Linked DNA regions of Homo sapiens. The protein of the gene in region 3 purifies or fractionates together with the protein of the main gene of each other region. This does not show direct contact. Each region holds a gene or a part of one and is shown on either strand. Other genes may lie near its edges.

Region 1 (2,363 bases), on a different chromosome or scaffold from region 3:
TTAAATTGCTGTGAGAACCCATATATGAAAAGAGAGGAGTTGAATTGTGTGTGCCTTTTATGTCTTGAGATTTATATGTGGAAAAGACGACATCTACTTCAAACTGTATTTTTTTCGTTTTTTTTTTTTTTTGGGGAAGGGGGGAGAACGGGGTCTTGCTCTGTCGCCCAGGCTGGAGTGCAGTGGCGCGATCTCAGCTGACTGCAACCTCCACCTCCCGGGTTCAAGGGATTCTGCCTCAGCCTCCCGAGTAGCTGAGACCACAGGTGCGTGCCACCACACCCGGCTAATTTTTTTGTATTTTTAGTAGAGACGGGGTTTAGTAGAGACGGATCACTCCTGACCACGTGATCCGCCCACCTCGGCCTCCCAAAGTGCTGGGATTACAGGCGTGAGCCACCACCCCCGGCCTGTATTTTCAGAGAGGAGAGCTTGGTGTTTTTGTGGTGCCAAGTGGTAAGATAATGTCTCTTTGAGGCTTCCTATGGACTGCCTTTATTTTAGTAAACTCAAGACACCAGTTAACCTCAACAGAGTTTTGGCCTTATTAGAATTTGTTGTGCATCTTATTGAAAGCCAGGTTTACATCACCTCACCCCATTATTCTTTTTAGTTAAATAAATTTACCATGCCAAGTAACCAGAATGGAGCAAATTGGTTGATCTTTAAGGCAGTAGGTTTGACTAGCTAGCTATCATTATTGTCACATCTAATGCTAGGCACCAGAAACCATTTGAGCCAGGAGTGTGAATGAATAATTCCAGAGACACTTTAGACATTTTTTAATGTTTTATATGAACATTTTACATTTGTGTGATTGCCTTAGATATTAAATTTTCCTAGTGCTGATAAAAACAGCAACATTCATAACTTATTTTATATATTGTTCCAAAGAAAAGAATTTGTTTTAATGGTTTCAAAATAACTGCACCTGAATTTGTTTATGTGCCTTAAGTTCTCTAGTGCTATTTCAACTTTTTTTTCAATCTAAATGAAGCTTACCTTAGATAAGGTTCATATTTGTTTCCTATAGAGTAAATAAACTTCCCCTTCTTAAATTGTGTAATAAGCACCAACGTGTGGTTGCTTGGCAGAATGAGAATGTTAAGGGAGATTGTTGGATGTTTGGAGTTTCATTATATTTTTTGTTTTTATTTTTTGATACCTAGGTGCTTTTTAAAATATTCAGACAAATATCTATCTTACATTGATTAAACCCGTGTAAATTCATTTGCAGTATCTACATCGAATGTCAAAAAAGTATACTTATTTTTGTTCCATACTTATGTACAATTTTTTCCCTCTTCAGGCTTTTTCATTTACCTTTTTGAAAAAGCACTTACTCTCCCCTTCCCTATCACCCCTCCCCCAAGGTTTCTTTATTTAAATTTTTATTGAGAGTTGTTGGAGCTCTAAGACAATACAAATTTAGAGTTGAACAAAAGTATAATCTGCTTTACAACTAGTATAGACCTAAGGTCATTTGCTTTCAATTAGAGGCTCCAGAGTCTTCATAGTGGAAAGAATGCTTTGTATTTAATTGTTCTTAGTTAAGTTGTAGCACGTGAATACTTACTTACATGTTTTGTTTAAATATACTTCTTGCATAGTTTAATTTTTTAAAAGTTGTATCTAATAAAATGTCTTTTAACCATTATTACTTGACTATATGGTTGTATTAAATTTTGTTTACGAAAAATTTGTTGTTCTGTTTTATTTTAAGTATATTTAAGGGGTTGTGCAAAAAAGAGATGGGGAAAATACTGGATATATTAATATATGTGTGTATTTACTGGTATGTCCATAAAATAACTGGAAGGATAAATAAGAAACTGAAAATATTAGTGTGTAAGAGGAAAGGAAATGGTGGCTGAAGGACAAGTAAAAATGAAACTTTACTGCATACGTATATGTGTGTAATTATAAATACATATAAAATCAATTTTTTAGTCTGAAACACACGAAAGTATTCCCTATTCAAAAAAAAAAATTTTTTTTTTCTTTTTTTGAGACGGAGTCTCACTCTGTCACCCAGGCTGGAGAGCAGTGGTGCAGTCTTGGCTTACTGCAACCTCTGCCTCCTGGGTTCAAGCGATTCTCGTGCTTCAGCCTCCTGAGTACCTGGGACTACAGGTGCATGCCACCACGCCCGGCTAATTTTTCTTTTTATATTTTTAGTAGAGACAGGGTTTCACCGTGTTAGCCAGGATGGTCTCGCTCTCCTGACCTCGTGATCCTCCCGCCTCAGCCTCCCAAAGTGCTGGGATTACAGGTGTGAGCCACTGCACCCAGCCTCTTCTATTATACTTTAAATTTTCTGTTTAAAAAAAAATGACCTGGCTGGGCACAGTGGCTCACGCCTG
Region 2 (3,664 bases), on a different chromosome or scaffold from region 3:
TGTTTTGTTTAAACTAGAGGCCAGTTCTGTAGTCTGGGGATTATTCATTCTCAGAGCTAGATAACCTCTTGTTGTAGGTTGGATTGCTGGGCAATTGACTGCCCACCTGTTCTGGATAAACAGAAAAAAACAAACTCCATGATGAAGTCGGGGTCCTAAAATCTGCAAAAGAAACAGCTGTTTGCTTCTTTGTGGTGGCCTTTCTGATGGGCCTGTGTCCTTCCCCTACCACCCCTCAGGCTACACACTAGCTTCTTATGGACAGATTCTATCATCCTTTAGGAGATATCACCTTAGTCATGCTCGCGATATGGTATTGCCTTATTTAAAAGCTAAAGGCCATGCAGTCCATTCCTACTCCCTTGAAGCACGGCAATGAGATTTACCCACACCCACCCACCCACTCCCAGCATACTAATATTCCATCTCTGTAGAGACTCCCAGCTAAGGGAGTCTTCAAAGTTATCATCTGCTTATCATTTTTCCATTCTTACTCTCAAGAAATGTCCGTTGCTTCCACGGAGTTGCCTCTTGTGCAACTGAAAGGTCCCAGCCTCTCTATCATTCTCGTCTCCACAACCCTCTGAACATAGTGTGTACTGCATTAACAAGATGATGGCTTACGTTCATAATAATAATCTGGAAGCATCAAGAATAATTTACATTATGTTAGCATTCTAAGCTTCACTAAGGTAACGGATTATATGTTTTACAGAGCGTTTCATCCAAAACAACTTTGATGTTTTGGTACTTACAGCGTTTCGCCTACACTACTGAGAAAATTCACTCACACTAACAGCTCATCCATTTACCTACCAAATAATAGTAGTGCCTAGTACATAAAAGGCTGGATGTTTTGTTGAATATGCACAAAGCATATGGAGACCAAACAGTGTAGCCTAGCGTAAATACTACCAACCATTTTTCCATATATATACAATCACATATAATCAAATCATATGTATGATCAAAATATATGTGTGATTTGACCAAACAATATAGCCTAAATACTACCAACCATTTCTCTATATTTATACAATCACATATAATCAAATCATATGTATGATCAAAATATATGTGTGATTTGACCAAACAATATAGCCTAAATACTACCAACCATTTCTCTATATTTATACAATCACATATAATCAAATCATATGTATGATCAAAATATATGTGTGATTTGGGGAATCATGGTTTTAAAAAATGATACCACTGTAATATGCATTTCCTTCACCTTTTCTCATTGACAATAATTTGTGAAAAATGTTCCAGTTCAGTAGATACAGATGAATCATTCATTTAATAGCTTCATAATATCCCATGTTATGCATATACCATACTTTATTCAACTTTCCCCTTGAGAGGCATTATTTGAGATTTTTCTTCTTTTAAAAAAATATGTTTGTATCTGTTTGTTCATTTGCTTTCTGAGAAAGTAAGTATGTTTGGAAAATGTGGGTTTCAATCCCTGCCCCCACCATTTATTAGTCATGTGAGGTTGAGCAAGTCCTCTCTGAATCTGTTTGCTAATCCGTAAAAAAATCTCCAGTAATAAAACCATCTCTTCCTCAGAAGTTTATGGAAGATCAAAGTGTGGAAGCAAATATAAAAATACATATTATAATGACCATTTTAATTAGTTCATATTCGTTTTATGTTTCTAATTGCAGAAATTGTTCATAGGTACAGAAAAGATAAAACAGTAAAATTAATACTTTTTTCCTCTTTCTATTAAAGAATGGAATGACTCCTCTAATGCATGCAGCATATAAAGGAAAACTCGATATGTGCAAATTACTACTGCGACATGGAGCCGATGTAAATTGTCATCAGCATGAACATGGATACACAGCCCTCATGTTTGCTGCACTTTCTGGTGAAGTTTTAGTATTTATAAATATAAGTTACCTATACAAACTTGTTATAAGTACATATATACTAAAAGATTAAATTCATTTTGATTTTAGTAATTTTATGGTCAAGTTTTATGGAAAGGAATGATGGCAATTGGTTTTTGAAAAGCTATAATGCAGGAAATAAATTATATAGTGAATTTGGTGATTTGTTTCTTTTGTTATTTAGATCAATTGATTCTTTATGTGGACAACATTTTGATGGAATTGAGGAACTGGATCTGTTTTTCTTTCAAGTTACCTCCTTTGATGTTCTATATCTTTATATTTTCAAGTGACATGAAAACTTCTTTCTTCTCTTGATCAAACAGTTGCCATGACAGAGCCGTCTGTTTGCCTCACTGGCACTTATGTACTAAATATGATGATCCCTTTAGAAACTTACTCGGATTTGTATTGTTTATTATTTGCTGAATAAGGACAATTTAGAAATACTGTCTACAATTAAGTGGGATTATCTGTAATTGGTGCAGCTCTTTGAAAAATACAGAAGTAATATCCTTGTACTTTGAAGATAATAATCTATATTTTCATAATCCTGGAACCCAGAAGCACTTCTAAGCATTATATAAACCACAGAATCCAAAAAGGACAATATTGATAAAAATTTAACATTTTCATTTGTAGGATATACCATAAATAGAGTTAAAATACAAATGAAAAACTAAAAATCTGTATTATATGTCTTAAAAGATTATATTGTGAAATATTAAAAGTTCTTTTAGCTGGGCACAGTGGCTCACACCTGTAATCCCAGCACTTTGGGAGGCCAAGGCGGGCTGATTGCTTGAGCCCAGGAGTTCGGACCATCCTAGGCAACACCATGAGACCCCGTCTCTACCAAAATAACAAATATTAGCCAGGGACAGTGGCGCACGTCTGTGGTGCCAGCTACTCAGGAGGCTGTGGCAGGAGGATTTTTGAGCCTGGGAGGCAGAGGTTGCAGTGAGCTGAGATCGTGCCCCTGAACTTGAGCCTGGGTGACACAGTGAGACTCTGTCTCAAAAAAAAAAAAAAAAAAAAGACTTCTTATAAATCAAGTATAAAAAGAAAAATACTACAGTAGAAAATTGGATGGAAAACAAAAGAAATACCACTGGCTGATCAAAATATAAAACATTTTGCGCAGTAATCAAAAAAATGCAAATTAGAACAATAAATTTTATTTTTTAGCTTATTATACTGGCAAATGTTAAGAAAGAGCTATAATGCTCAGGAACTTCTTTACACTATTTGGGGGAGTGCATGTCAGTCCAACCTTGCTGGATGGCAGCCTGGCAAAATGCATTTAAAATATGCATAATCTTTGATCTGGCAATATTTCCCAGGAACTGTTCCTAAGGAAATCATAATTCAAACTTGCGAAAATGAATGGAAAATACTTTTCACTGAGTATAGTTCATAATAGCAAAATACCCATAATGACTACTTTAGTAGAAGAATGTGAATAGAATAATGTGTATGTTTAGATAGAAAAAAGGTGTAGAAAGATAGATGCCCAGTGGTTAATAGTTCTTCCAGAGCCTGTAAGTGTGAGGAATGGGATGGATTAGTCGATATTAAAGGGGAATCCTATTCATTTTATCTCTTTTTAAAAAATTGTTTTGTATGCGTATTTTGATTTTATAGTAAGTGTTACCTCTAGGAAAATATATTTCATTTTGTTTAAAAAGGCAGTATTCAATTCCATACTGCCTTTGCATTGCTTGATTTGTTTTCCAGAAAATAAGGTTAATTTCTAAGGTTCT
Region 3 (3,664 bases):
GTCTGATGCCACTAGTAGGTAGAAAAATTGACCAAACATCTCAGTCTTTTCCAGCCCTTTGATCTTTTGTTCAAAGTGGTGATTCTCAGATTTTTTCCCTTGGTGATCCATTTACTTATAATAAAAAATCCTTTTGAATCTCCTAGTCCTTCTACTTGTCCCTGGAGGGGGGACAAAACTGCTCCAAAATAAGACAGCAGTCTCTGTGTCATATATAGACTTTGGGCCATAATTTGTTTCATGTTAAGATAATTATAAAACTGTCAAAATTCTTTGACAGTGATTCTAGAATCTAAGCAGATAATCCTAACTGTAGAAAAGGCTTTAGTGTACGAAGATTTTCACTACACTGTTATTTACTGAGGTGAAAATTTTGAAAGAAGCCATATGTCCAGCAAGATGGAATGGTTAATCAGTCTACTTGATGAGCTGAATCTATTAAAAGGTGTTTAGGAAAAGGTTATGACATGAAAAAATTCTTATGCAATATTATTATAAAAATTTATATGCAATGTTATTATAGTAGTTGAAAACAAATATGAATTAAAATGTATGAATAGATACAATATTAAAAGGAAATCATTAAAATATTAAAGTACTTACCTTTGTTCTTTTTTTCATGTTTCTCATATTTTCTAAAATATATAATCCTTACTTTGATGATAGATATAACTTCATGACCTTTATTTTTTAAAACATACTTTGGGAAAAATTTAGAAAGTATATCAATATTGTAAGAAAGTAATGTTGATTTATTCAAAGAACAAATAAAGCCAAAGGCTTTTTCTGAAGCAATGCAAATGAGCAAACCAACCCCCAATTGTTTACTGCCTATGTCAGGATAGATTATTTCTATTTCAGCTTTTGAGGCAGTGGCTCAAAGGACAATAAGTCACACACACATAGTTCATTATAAGAAAAGCAGCACAGAAGAAAAGATTTAAAAAATTTTAGCCTAAAAATAAAGAAATTAAGCATTACTGATATTTCAGGAATGGATTGATGTGCTCTGCTGGGATCTGAATAGCAGGTGGTCTCTTGCCATTGCAACTGAAGAAAGAGGGAAGTTTCTCACCCTTTCTTTAGCAGTGTATTGTAACATGACATAGTCTATGTTACTGTGTTAGTTATATTTATAGCTATTACCCTGCAGAAGCAAGCAAACAGCAAGAAAATGGCTGAGGTGACCCTTCTATTCCGATTAGCACATTAGGTCAGTACAAGATGAAGTAGTAAAATAACATAATCTAATAAGATTGGCAAATAATTGGCAAAAAATAGAAAATTTTCAAAAGCACCACTTGAAATACAGATTTAGCTGGGTATGATGGCGTGCATCCATAGTCCCAGCTACTCTGGAAGCTGAGGCAGGGAGGATTGCTTGAGCCCAGGGGTTCTGGGCTATAGTACACTATGCTGACCTGCTGTCATACCAAAGTTCTGCATCAATATGGTGAGTTCCCAGGACCAGAGGACCATCAGGAGGGATGGACCAACCTAGGTTGGACATAGAGCAGGTCAGAACTCCTGTGCTGATTAGTAGTGGAATTGCACCTGTGAATAGTCACTGCACTCCAGCTTGGACAACATAGAGAGATCCTGCCTCTTAAAAAGAAAAACAAATGAAAAAAAAAACAGGGATTCTCCATCATAAAGATGCATCTTTTTTTTTTTTTTTTGAGATGGAGAGTCACTCTTGTCACCCAGGCTGGAAGGCTGGAGTGCAATGGTGTGATCTTGGATCACTGCAATCTCCACCTTCTGGGTTCAAGCGATTCTCCTGCCTCAGCCTCCTGAGTAGCTGGGATTACAGGCGCCCGCCACCATGCCCGGCTAATTTTTGTATTTTTATTAGAGATGGGATTTCGCCATGTTGGCCAAGCTGGTCTCGAACTCCTGACGTCATATGACTGCCTGCCTCAGCCTCCCAAAGTGCTGGGATTACAGGCATAAACCACCATGCCCGGCCCATAATGATGCATCTTGCTACCATTTGAGGTATCGTCTAGTGGTAGTAGGGCATACATTTGGTTATAAATACATATACAAATGTTAGGAGTGTGTGCTTAGAGCCTTTTTTTTTTCAAATGGACAAGATGCATGATTGAAAAATATTTGGAGATCATTGGCTTAGAATGTAACCACAAAACTAAACTGGGAAATAATAGCAGTTTGGTGAGTTGAAGCTTAATACATAAATTGTGATTTTTATGTATTATGTATTTGTCCTCATAGTAAGTAGGAAAATCATTTATGATATGAACATTTTCCACTTTGTGCTTCCTGTATACTGTGTTACCATATTTTTTGATATTCTGCAAAAGGCAGGAATCTCTTTTCTGAGAATTAATATAGCTGAGCTGGCTTCTCTGGGGGAGGAAAACACAGTTCTGTTTTTATAGATGGGCAAACTTGACCATAGAAAATTTTGGGTGTCTTACCCAAGGTAACATAGATGAAATATGGCCCTAAGATCCTGCTTAATGGTTGTTCACTTTACAGCTCCCATTCATTCCAGAGATAAAATCAGAATGGATGGGAATTATTATCATCTCACTGCATTTATGTAACTCTTTTCATTTTCGAATACGTACTGACTTTAACCAAAGAAGTTATAAGAAGTATGTATGATGTTTAAAATACTCCTATGGTTACTTAAAAGTGCTTTATGACCTTGTTTGGTTCTGAGTTCTTCTCTCCCTTTTGGTTCCTTTCTAGTTGGAGGAGAGCAGATTAGTGCCATTGGAAGGGGCATATGTGTGTTGCTGGGTATTTCCCTGGAGGATACGCAGAAGGAACTGGAACACATGTAAGATGCATTTCTGTCATTGCTGTTTGAGTGGGCTATGTGGTGGTGGTCATGCTGGGAACTTCCATAGTACTTTGTGCCTGTGAGGTGAGCCCCTGTCACTTTTAACCATTGTCCCATTGGATGTAGTATGGTTATCTCCGTGTTTCAGAGAAGACCGAGGAAGAATGATTTAGGAGACCTCAACGCTAAGTCAGCCTTTGAGCAGGAGCACCGCCTGTCCCCTGTCTGTTTGCTACTGTGGCCTCAGAGCATGCCTCTTGTTCTCTTAACGCAAAAACCAAGCCTCTTTTCTTATGTTTGGTTTCTCTTTTTTAAATTGGGCAGTTATCTGGGCACTATGTATTTTTAGAATGTCTACTAGCTCGCTGTGCACATAGGGATCTAGAACTCAGAGAGGTTAAATTGCTTGCCCCAGATCATGCACACACACTTAGCAAAAAGCCTGAACCCCAGTTAGAGTCTGGGCTCCCTGACCTTGAAGCCAGTGATCTTTTTACTAAGGTGGTGGCGGGGGTTGAGGAGCAGGGGTTGCCATTGCTGCTGCCTGCCTGGCTCTCTGAGTTTATAGATGGGCAAACTCGACTATAGAAAGGTTTAGGTGTCTTAGCCAAGGCAGCACAGATGAAATATGGCCCTAAAATCCTGCTTAATGATTGTTCACTTTATAGCTCCCATTCATTCCAGACATAAAATCAGAATGTGCCCTCTGTGCACCTCCTCCCCTCCATTACCACGGGGCACATTTACTTTAGATGCTGGATCCATTTATTCTGCCCCTTGGTGCTCAGAGCTTGGGTATAACCCTGCCCAACTGATTCTTTTGTGTTAGATTGAAAATCAGACTTGAAACTG

What was found.
Region 1: the proteins of DTD1 (region 3) and KLHL24 purify together in Homo sapiens (affinity purification with mass spectrometry; one large-scale study listed by BioGRID and IntAct). This does not show direct contact.
Region 2: the proteins of DTD1 (region 3) and ANKMY2 fractionate together in Homo sapiens (co-fractionation; one large-scale study listed by BioGRID). This does not show direct contact.

What each region holds. Positions count from the first base shown.
Region 1 is NC_000003.12:183,682,821-183,685,183, forward strand, and holds the end of KLHL24 (kelch-like protein 24), read left to right. Parts: 3' UTR 1-1,699; downstream 1,700-2,363. UniProt on the Homo sapiens protein: Necessary to maintain the balance between intermediate filament stability and degradation, a process that is essential for skin integrity.
Region 2 is NC_000007.14:16,625,255-16,628,918, reverse strand, and holds part of ANKMY2 (ankyrin repeat and MYND domain-containing protein 2), read left to right. Parts: intron 1-553; exon of another isoform or gene 554-639; intron 640-1,740; coding exon 1,741-1,879; intron 1,880-3,664. UniProt on the Homo sapiens protein: May be involved in the trafficking of signaling proteins to the cilia.
Region 3 is NC_000020.11:18,591,013-18,594,676, forward strand, and holds part of DTD1 (D-aminoacyl-tRNA deacylase 1), read left to right. Parts: intron 1-2,718; coding exon 2,719-2,809; intron 2,810-3,664. UniProt on the Homo sapiens protein: Possible ATPase involved in DNA replication, may facilitate loading of CDC45 onto pre-replication complexes. An aminoacyl-tRNA editing enzyme that deacylates mischarged D-aminoacyl-tRNAs.